Linked DNA regions of Homo sapiens: region 1 is linked to region 2. The links come from fine-mapping of genetic effects on plasma protein levels. Region 2 holds a variant in brackets. A gene starts in the other region. All regions are shown on their reverse strands.

The links. PIP is the posterior inclusion probability: the model's chance that the variant is causal. Protein levels are from antibody-based Olink assays in UK Biobank. Linkage for the fine-mapping came from a reference panel and not from the study's own genotypes, which makes the PIPs less certain.
Region 1: it holds the start of CNTN3, and the variant in region 2 is fine-mapped to the plasma level of the CNTN3 protein (UK Biobank, PIP above 0.99).

Annotation. Positions count from the first base shown.
Region 1 is chr3:74,611,500-74,617,022 of GRCh38, reverse strand. It overlaps CNTN3 (contactin 3), which reads left to right and starts at 2,364. Exons shown (of 23, transcript NM_020872.3): 1 at 2,364-2,632. LOC105377166 (a long non-coding RNA gene) reads right to left here and starts at 3,220. Exons shown (of 3, transcript XR_007096257.1): 1 at 3,132-3,220; 2 at 576-750.
Region 2 is chr15:42,985,160-42,988,778 of GRCh38, reverse strand. The region is part of intron 35 of UBR1 (ubiquitin protein ligase E3 component n-recognin 1); the gene reads left to right. Among named protein-coding and RNA genes, the nearest start is that of TTBK2, 66 kb to the right of the region's middle. The variant C/T (reference allele first, on the strand shown) is at 2,251.

The DNA.
Region 1 (5,523 bases), not on the chromosome of region 2:
CTCTTTTTAAAACATAAATAACCCCGGAATTTTTTGTAATCCAGCTATTACTCTTGTAGGGATGAGCAGTTTCCTGATAAAGTGAGAGAGGGCAAATGTGGCCAGAAGTTCCCTAATGTATTCAAGAATCCTGTTGTATGCTCATAGAGTAAGGGGGACTAGGGAAAAATCACCTGGTCAAGCCATTCATGCAATTTCTTTTTTTGTTATTGTTGTTGTTCTGTTTTGAGATAGGGTCTTGCTCTGTCACCCAGGCTGGAGTGCAGTGGTTCAATCATGGCCCACTGCAGCCTGGACCTCCCAGGCTCAAGCGATCTCCTCCTGCCACAGCCTCCCAAGCAGCTGGGACTGCAGACACACACCATCATGCTCAGCTAATTTTTAAATTTTTTGTTGAGAGGCGGTCTCACTGTATTGCCCAGGCTGGTCTCAAACTCCAGGGCTCAAGGGATTCTCCCACCTCAGTCTTCCAAAGTACCAAGCAACTTCTTTGTGGCAATTGGAAATGCAGGGGGCCTACATGCTGACTTTGCTGTAGGGAGCGGCACCTTGCATCTGACTGACCTGGGTCTTACCTCTTGTCCTCAAACCCCCTCTAGGAGAGTTTTTCCAGAAGTTCAGATTTCATTCTGAATTGCAGAGGACCACGCACGTATCTCTTGAGAAAATGATCAAACGTGAGAAAGTGCAGTTAAACCAGGCCTGGTTTGCCCAGGTTGCTTCTCTTGATGAGGTGTTGCTTCATTCCATCTGCAGGAATCACAGGGAGAGGATCAAGGAGAGGAAACAGGGCCATAAACTGTCAAGTCTAATTAAATGTGACTAGATTATTTAATATGAAGGGACAACGTGATACATTTTAAAAACAATGTCAGAGAATTATAAAATGAAAAGTATAAAGTCTCCTCTGCTCCAATTTCAGTCTCACTCACTAGGACTAACAATTGTTAACAGTATCCTTAGACATCCTTTCAGAAATTGTGAATGCATAAATATGGATACATACACACAAAAGGGTGCGTGCGTGTGTGTGTGTGTGTGTGTGTGTGTGTGTGTGTGTAAGTGCTTGTAAGCACAAAAACGGTACAGGTACCAACTTTCCTGTGCCGATCAACAGTACATGTCCCAAGTTCTCCTAACAATACCGTTTATTTATTTTTTTATTTATTTAGAGACAGGGTCTCCCTCAGTCTTTTGGTCTGGAGTGCTGTGGCACAATCATGGCTCACTGCAGCTTCCACCTCCTGAGCTCGAGTGATCCCTCAAGTGCTCCTCCCACCTCAACCTCTCAAGTAGTTGGGACAACAGGTGCGTGCCATGACGCCCACCTAATTTAAACTTTTTGTTTGTTTGTTTTTTGCAGAGACAAAGTCTCCCTATGTTGCCCAGGCTGGTCTCAAACTCCTGGGCTCAAGAGATCCACCTGTCTTGGCTTCTCAAAGTGCTGGGATTACAGGAGTGACCCACCTCCGCCCAGCCTCTAAGGATACCTCTTGGAGGTCATTTATGCCAATACTAGTAGATGCACCTTTCTCTCTGCCGCTGTATGTCTCCACTGTATTTTATCAGCCACTCTCCTAATGAAGGACAGGTAGGTTGTTCCCAACTGTTTTTCGTACAACTAAAGTTGCAGTGTTTGCACGGGTTTGACTGGAAGTAAGTCACCAGCGGTTCAGCGCAAAGGCTCAGGACTGCAACAGGCTTATTCAAGTCCGGGTTCTCCAACCCACCACTGTGTGTATACTTGGGCAAATAAAGGTGGTAAGATCTACTTCACAGGGTCCTTGACAGAATATAGTTGCGATTATTCTCACAACTGACTCATTGAAACTTTAAGCAAACCAATTTCCTCATCACTAAATCCGGGAATAATAATAGATCCAGGTTGCTCTGGGGACTGCATGAACTAATTGATTTAGCGCAGTCCACGACCTGCTACCTAGTGAGCCCTTAATAATTATCCGCTTTAATATTAAAATTGGCAATCTTTGCGCACTTGTGGGAGCGCAGCTGCAGGAGGCTTTTCTAGAAGTGGAATTCCTGCCTTAACCCCGTGTTCCGAGGGCCCTAACTGCGTGGCACGAGGCCACCCGGAGGTGACACGGTGACCGCCGCCCAGCCCGCGCCGCCGCCCAGGGCCCTGCGGAGGCCGGACACACGTGGGTGCACGCGGCCGAGCGCAGGGCCGCGCGGGGTCCGGCCGGCGCAGAGGCGCTGGGGGCGCCGCAGACGCGAGGCTCGGGACCCAGTTGGCTGCTCCGCCGCGCTCCCCGCCCCTCCCTCCCTCCAGTCCGCCCGGTCTCCCCTCCCTCCAGCGTCCGCGTCGGAGCCGGAGCCGGAGCCGGAGTGGCGGAGGCACGGGCAGTGCTCGCTAGGCGCCGGCAGCAGCCACAGCAGCCTGGCGCTTGGCGGCGGCGGCGGTGGCAGCGGCGGGCGGGCTGGCGCCGTGGACTGGGCCGGGAACCGTGCGGACGAGGGTGCTGCGCCTGCGGCGGCGGCGGCTTACGCGGGCGCGCACGGCGGCCCCCCGGGCCCGGACTAACTGCGGCGGCGGCGGTGGCGGCGGCGGCGGCGGCGGCGGCGGCGGCGAGTGGGCCGTCGGGGCGGGCGTCTGGCGAGCTGCAGAGACCAGGTAAGTCCGGGATGCCCGACTCCTGGCGCCGGCCGGGCCACAGGGATGAGCCACCTGCCAGGGCAAACTTTACGCCCTGGCTTCATGGCTCCTCAGCCCCGAAGTTTGTTTGCAGGGAAATGCACCTGACGGGTCGAGAATAAAAGATGCTTCTCTCATCGGACTTGCTCTGGGGAGATTATTTTTCCCCTTCTGGGGCGAGGATTGGTTTCGGGTTGGGAAGGCTGCATCCCCAGCTGGAGCGCTGAAAATTGAGTGGTAGGTCCCTTGGGCTTGCCCTTCGCGCAGTGGATTTGACCAGTTAAAGTTGGGGGAAAAAAGTTGTGACTCCTAGGGATGCTGAGGAACAATTCCAGGTGCATGATGCAGAATGTGGGAATGTGATACCTCTTTGCTGGAACCACCCCCCAGGCCCAGATTCCCAGGTCTGAGAAAGCTAGGGTGGCCGATTCTTTCATTAGCGATCAAGTTTTCTAAGCTGCATTTTCTTTCTACTCACAGATCAGCAGCTTGGGACGGAGTTCCCCGTCGCGTTTATTTGTCAGGTTTACCCTGCTGCGCTGTAGTCCAGGTTTCCTGAGCTCGGACCCTGGTTTCAGCTGTTTCTGTGTTCTCTGAGGAGCCTGCAAAGCTAACCAAGCAGGTAACAGAATAGCAGAAACAGAAAACCAGGAAGTGCCAACCGGGCACCGGGGTCATAGCACCATCAGGAATTTTTTCTGGTCGCGTGAAATGAACGAACAGCTTCTGGGCTCTGCTTGTGCAAAGCTCCGTACAACTCTCCAATCCGTATGTCTTTCCCTGTATTGCATTTGCTTATTGATTTACAACAAGGAGATGTGTCCAGAGGTATTATTTAATAACAAACGGTGTCCGCTACGGTAAGGACAGCAAACCTCCTTTCAGAGGCAAAGAAAGGGGAACAGAGCTCTGGGAAAGGGGTAGCCAGTCTGCTAACCTCAACCCAAGATGCAGGGAAACAGAGCTAGAAAAAGCAACAGACAAGGAGGGCGTGATGTGCAGGAGGGAGGTCAGAAACCCCAGCTCATATGGTGAGTAGGTAAATCCAGAAATAATTTTAAAATGATTAAGCAAGAATAACTAAAAAAAAAAAAAAAAAAGTAGGAAGACTGTACGTGCTGTGGTTTCTGTCTACCCCCACAGAGATGAATATCACACTAGCTGAAAAAGAATCCTGATCTGTAAATAGATTAAAAACAGGAATTAATCAGAACAATGAGTCAGAGCCCTTCAGAGATTGAAAGGAGGAGTAATTGCCTTTGAAAGAGCTTATATCTCAATATCAAGTCAAATGTGTTACTTTTGCTTTGCTAGATGTGTTTACTAACAGTAACCTGACTTTGGCTGCAGTAACCTGGCATCTTGGTTCATGGTTTTAACCATTTGTGGGTCATGGGACTAGGGAGAAAGTTGACTGCAGGTTAATATTCATATCAATTTGTGCAACATTTGTAAGATGCCTAATACGTGCATGTCACTGGTTGCAATGGGAGAGGTCCTTGTGAATGTTCATTAAAGAAATCTGATCGGGTTCAGCCTCACTAAATGGAAGGATGTTGGCTTGCAAATAATAAAGAGTGGGGTTGGGAATTATTGGTCTTTGAATACTTGCTTGAAATTAGTTGAGAGTAAACATGTGGTTTGAGGACCCCCAAAATGATCAGTATCCACCAGGGAAATATAGCAAATTGCTGTACACTTTTATAAGATGAATAGTAAGGCTGAATGCATGCAAGTGGCCCTTCTGTCTAAAAGTAGGATAACCGAGACACCGAGTGTCTAATTGATATGCAGGGTAATAGATTCAGGCTGTGGCCGCCACAGACAATAACATTCAGCCTCATGTCCTCCTCACTGTCTGGATGTCATTAATGTCAGCCCGAAGACATGAAGATGTTAAGTTCATTTCTCCAGGAGAACTCTAACTTTTAAATATTCTTCACAACACAACCAGATAGCCCAAGTGTACCTTAAAATGGCAACAAAGCATTTAATAGGAGCAAAGTGCTGAGCACTTTCAAGTAGAGAGAAGATTAGCCGTGGACAACAAGCTGTAGCCTTTCCTTTGCTGATTTATGTTCAATTTTATCACTGTCACATTTCATATATGCCCAGTTATTACAAACTAATAGCCTCTTTTCTCTGCTTGCAAAATATGCATCTTTCTCTTTTACAAGTTCCTAACTCCTTCTCACACATTCAGTACACATCTTCCAGCTTTGTTTTTACTGCAAAATTTAAGTGTCCAACTTGAAGTTCTCATTAACTCTTAATATGGTTCATGCTGAAATAGTATATAGATATAATTGCTGCTTCCAAACTGTCAGATCTGTATATCGCTATACTGTGGCAATACTACAAAACAGAGAAGCTTTGACTGGTTTCCAATCACCAGTTAGTAAGTTGTTAGCAGTAAAACTAATGTTAATTTTATGTAGTGGAATATATTCAGATGGCAGGAGGATTTATTGATGCTGTGCATGTTTGCCTGCTGTCTCTGATTTAGTTGTCACCACCAGTCTGCCTTTAAGCCTTCTTATCTTAGCAAGGTACTTTGTCTCTATGAAGGTGAGCATCTTTAAGGTGCTCACTTGTAGTTTTTAATATGCACACATGCATATGCATATACTTTTAACATGCATATATAATTAATCACTTAATGCTGGTGGACAGTTTCCTTTCTTATGCTTGAAAAAAGTGCAATGGAGAATATCATTGTTGCAAAGATAGTTGGCAAGAGAATATGGGGCCACGGAACAGTTTAAGATAGAACATTTCTTTGAAATTGAGGGGTGACAGATCTCATTCTCATATCCAATTTGTATAAACATTTCAGAAATGGATCGAGTGTTGTAAATGGTTTTTATCTT
Region 2 (3,619 bases):
AATTAACTTTGATCATTCATTCTTAAATTCTTTTTTTCACTGATGGCCCAGAATAATTTGACTTGTATGAGGACTATTAGTATTTCAGTGTATTAGTGTGGCTCATGCCATTTGGTCTGGTAATTTTTTTATGTTGATCTCTTTTTAACTATGATTGTGGCCATATGCAACATAAGTTAAAAAAAATATTTTTAAAAAGCTGGGCACGGTGGATTATGCCTGGGAGGCTGAGCTTTGGGAGGCTGAGGTGGGAGGATAACTTGAGAGCAGGAGTTTGAGACCAGCCTGGGCAATACAGCAAGATTGTCTACAAAAAATTAGCCAGGCGTGGTGGTATGCACCTGTAATCCTAGGTAATCAGGAAGCTGAAGTGGGAAGATCATTTGAGTCCAGGAGTTTGAGGCTGCAGTGAGCCATGGTTGCACCACTGCACTCCAGCCTGGGCAACAGAGTGAGACCCTGTCTCTAAAAAGTGTGTGTGTGTTCACACACACACACACACACACACATATATTCCTTTAGTATCTATATTAAAGGAACAGCATGATGTAAGTTATAGAGGTTCAAGGAAAAAAGAAAAGAATCAACTCAGAAGTGTTCAGTAATTTTTCTTTCTTTTATAGTTTGAGAGAAGAAGTGAGGGGAAACCAAAGTCACCTAAAAATTAACGGAAAGGGGAAAGGAAGACTGAGGCAGTTTAAGAGAGATTAGCAGGCAGAAACCAGCTCTAAAGGGAAGCCTACTATCAAATTCTCTGCCATATTGAAAATTTTGCACAGAAAAATGTAGCAGTGAGGGATCACTTAGATTTTTTAAGTTAGTGCATTTGTTCGTTATAGGGACAAGGTGCAATATTACATGGAAAAAATTAAGAATGGTGATTCTTCCCTATCTTTATCCAAGCCAACTTTGATTTCCCTTTCAATATATATATTTTTGGTAATTGTTTTTAATGGAGTCCATTATATTTTCTTCATTTAAATGTATTTTTGTAACAAGACACTTATATTTCATAATTTGAATTAAGTAGCATGAAGCCATATTTTTTTTTTTTTTTTTTTTTTTTTGAGACAGAGTCTCGCTCTATTGGCAGACTGGAGTGCAGTGGCACAATCTCGGCCACCACAACCTCCGCCTCCCAGATTCAAGCAATTCTCCTGCCTCAGGCTCCCGAGTAGCTGGGACTACAGGTGCACGCCACCACGCCCAGCCAATTTTTGTATTTTTAGTAGAGACGGGGTTTCACCATGTTGGCCAGGATGGTCTCGATCTCTTGACCTCGTGATCCTCCCGCCTCAGCCTCCCAAAGTGCTGGGATTACAGGCGTGAGCCACCACACCCGGCCTTGAAGCCACATTTTTTCCCAAAGCCTTCCTACATACTATCATTAGTTTCTTAATAGAGTTTAAGAGTCGCTTTCAGTGCCTTGGCAAAGGCAGGTTCCAGGCCACGGGCACCTGCCCTTAGCAGACCCCCTACCGGTGCCCTCAGAGGGCTCCTATGAGTGGGTTCATTGGCCTTGGCCCAGTGAGCCTCCGCCTACATTGATCTTAAGCCCATAGAGAGGGCCCATCCCGGCTCTGCCCCTGCCGGGATCCAGTTGCTGCCCCAGGGGGACTGATGGGCAAAGCCGCCCCTGTGGCTAGGCCGTGACCATCCTTGTCAGAGCCAGACTGCGGTTGGACATCTTGGGCCGAGCCCAGCACCATGCAGGGGCATGGGAGCTGAGGAAGCGCCGCTCAGGAGCTGGAGTCACCACTCCACCGTGTGCCTTCCAAGGATACCCAGGGGGTCAGTGGGCTGGCGGCTTCCTGCTGCTCCCTGTCAGAGTCAAAGCACAGATCCTCAGGGTGGGCTCAGGGGCCGAGGCAGCCCAGGGAAGCTCCGGGTGGGGACCGTGTCTTCCTGGGGTTGGTGCCCTCTGGCCGGGACCCTTTGCTGGCCCATGGTCCCCGGGTACTGCCGTGGCGTGGCCTCCCACCTGTCTGCCTGGTGGAGGGAGCTGTGGGGGTGGGGATGTGACTGAATAAAGCCACTGTGGGTGGATGTGCTTGGGGGAAAAAAAGTCACATCCAAACCTGTTAGACTTAAATCATGGGTATAGGATAATACATCAGTTTATATTTGCTATGATTCAATCAAGTGGGATATAGGAAAGGTGAGGTTTATATAAAATAGAGTCTGAACAAATTGATAAGAAATGTAAAGCATTCTTGTGGAGTCATGACATGCTAAGTCTCTTCAGACTTT[C/T]AGTGAAGCTATTTCACACTTTACTATTTTGGGGAAGATAAGCATTAGGAAATCAAGAATTTATATTTAGACCTTGAACATTAAAAAGGGGGCACAGTCTGTTATAAAGGAGATAGGAAATTCACTGCTGATAGAGCTGAATCTTTTCATATGTGGTTCTATAATCTAGTAATTGGATTCCATTTGATTAATATCATATTGTGTTCACTATTGTGCTTTTTCTATCAAGCAGGCATAATGCTCTACTTTATTCTTAGTACATAAACAACTAACTTATCTCAGTCCCTGTGGAGATGGAGAGATATGTACAGAATGCATTGGCATAGGATAATAGTTGAGGAATCAAAACAAAGCGTCCTTTGAATTACTGTTTATGCAAAGATGAAAAAAAATGCTTCCACACTCGTATCTGCTGCTAAGGATCAGTGAAAATAAGAGTAATTTAGGAATAAATACCATGGACAACAAAACACAAATCTGTGATTTTGGTATTTTAATTTTCTCTTTTTCTTTCTCTTTTTTTTTTTTTTTTTTTTTTTGAGACAGGGTCTCACTTTGTTGTCCAGGCTGGAGTGCAGTGGTGCAGTTATGGCTCACTGCAGCCTTAGCCTCCCCAGGCTCAGGTGATCCTCCCACCTCAGCCTCCTGAGCAGTTGGGACCATAGGCATGTGCCACCACGCCCAGCTAATTTTTGTGTTTTTTGTAGAGACAGGGTTTCACCATGTTGTCCAGGCTGGTCTTGAACTTCTGAGCTCAAGCAGTCCTCCTGCCTCACCCACCCAAAGTCCAGGGATTACAGGCATGAACCACTGCACCCGGTCTCATTTTCTTTTTTTCCTATTGATCTTTTCTAATTCTTTTAAAATTGTACCCGAGGTCGGGCGCAGTGGCTCACGCCTGTAATCCCAGCACTTTGGAAGGCTGAGGTGGGCGGATCACCTAAGGTCAGAAGTGCGAGACCAGCCTGGCTAACATGCTGAAACCCTGTTTCTACTAAAAATACAAAAATTTAGCTGGCGTAGTGGTGCACGCCTGTAATCCCAGCTACTGAGGAGGCTGAGGCAGGAGAATCGCTTGAGCCCAGGAGGTGGAGGTTGCAGTGAGCCGAGATCGCGCCATTGCACTCCAGCTTGGGCAACAAGAGCGAAAGTCTGTCTCAAAAAAAAAATTGTACCCAAAAGAGCAATGAAGTTGTTTGTATCTGCCTTACATATTATTTTTAAACAAAATAGGCTATAATTACATATATAAATTACTTATTTTAGAAAATTTTGCATAAAAAAGATGCTGAAATGAGAAGAAGCAGTCCAGGCTGCTTTGTTTTTCCCAAGCATTCTTATAAGATTGCTGCAGGTGCTTTATTTTTTA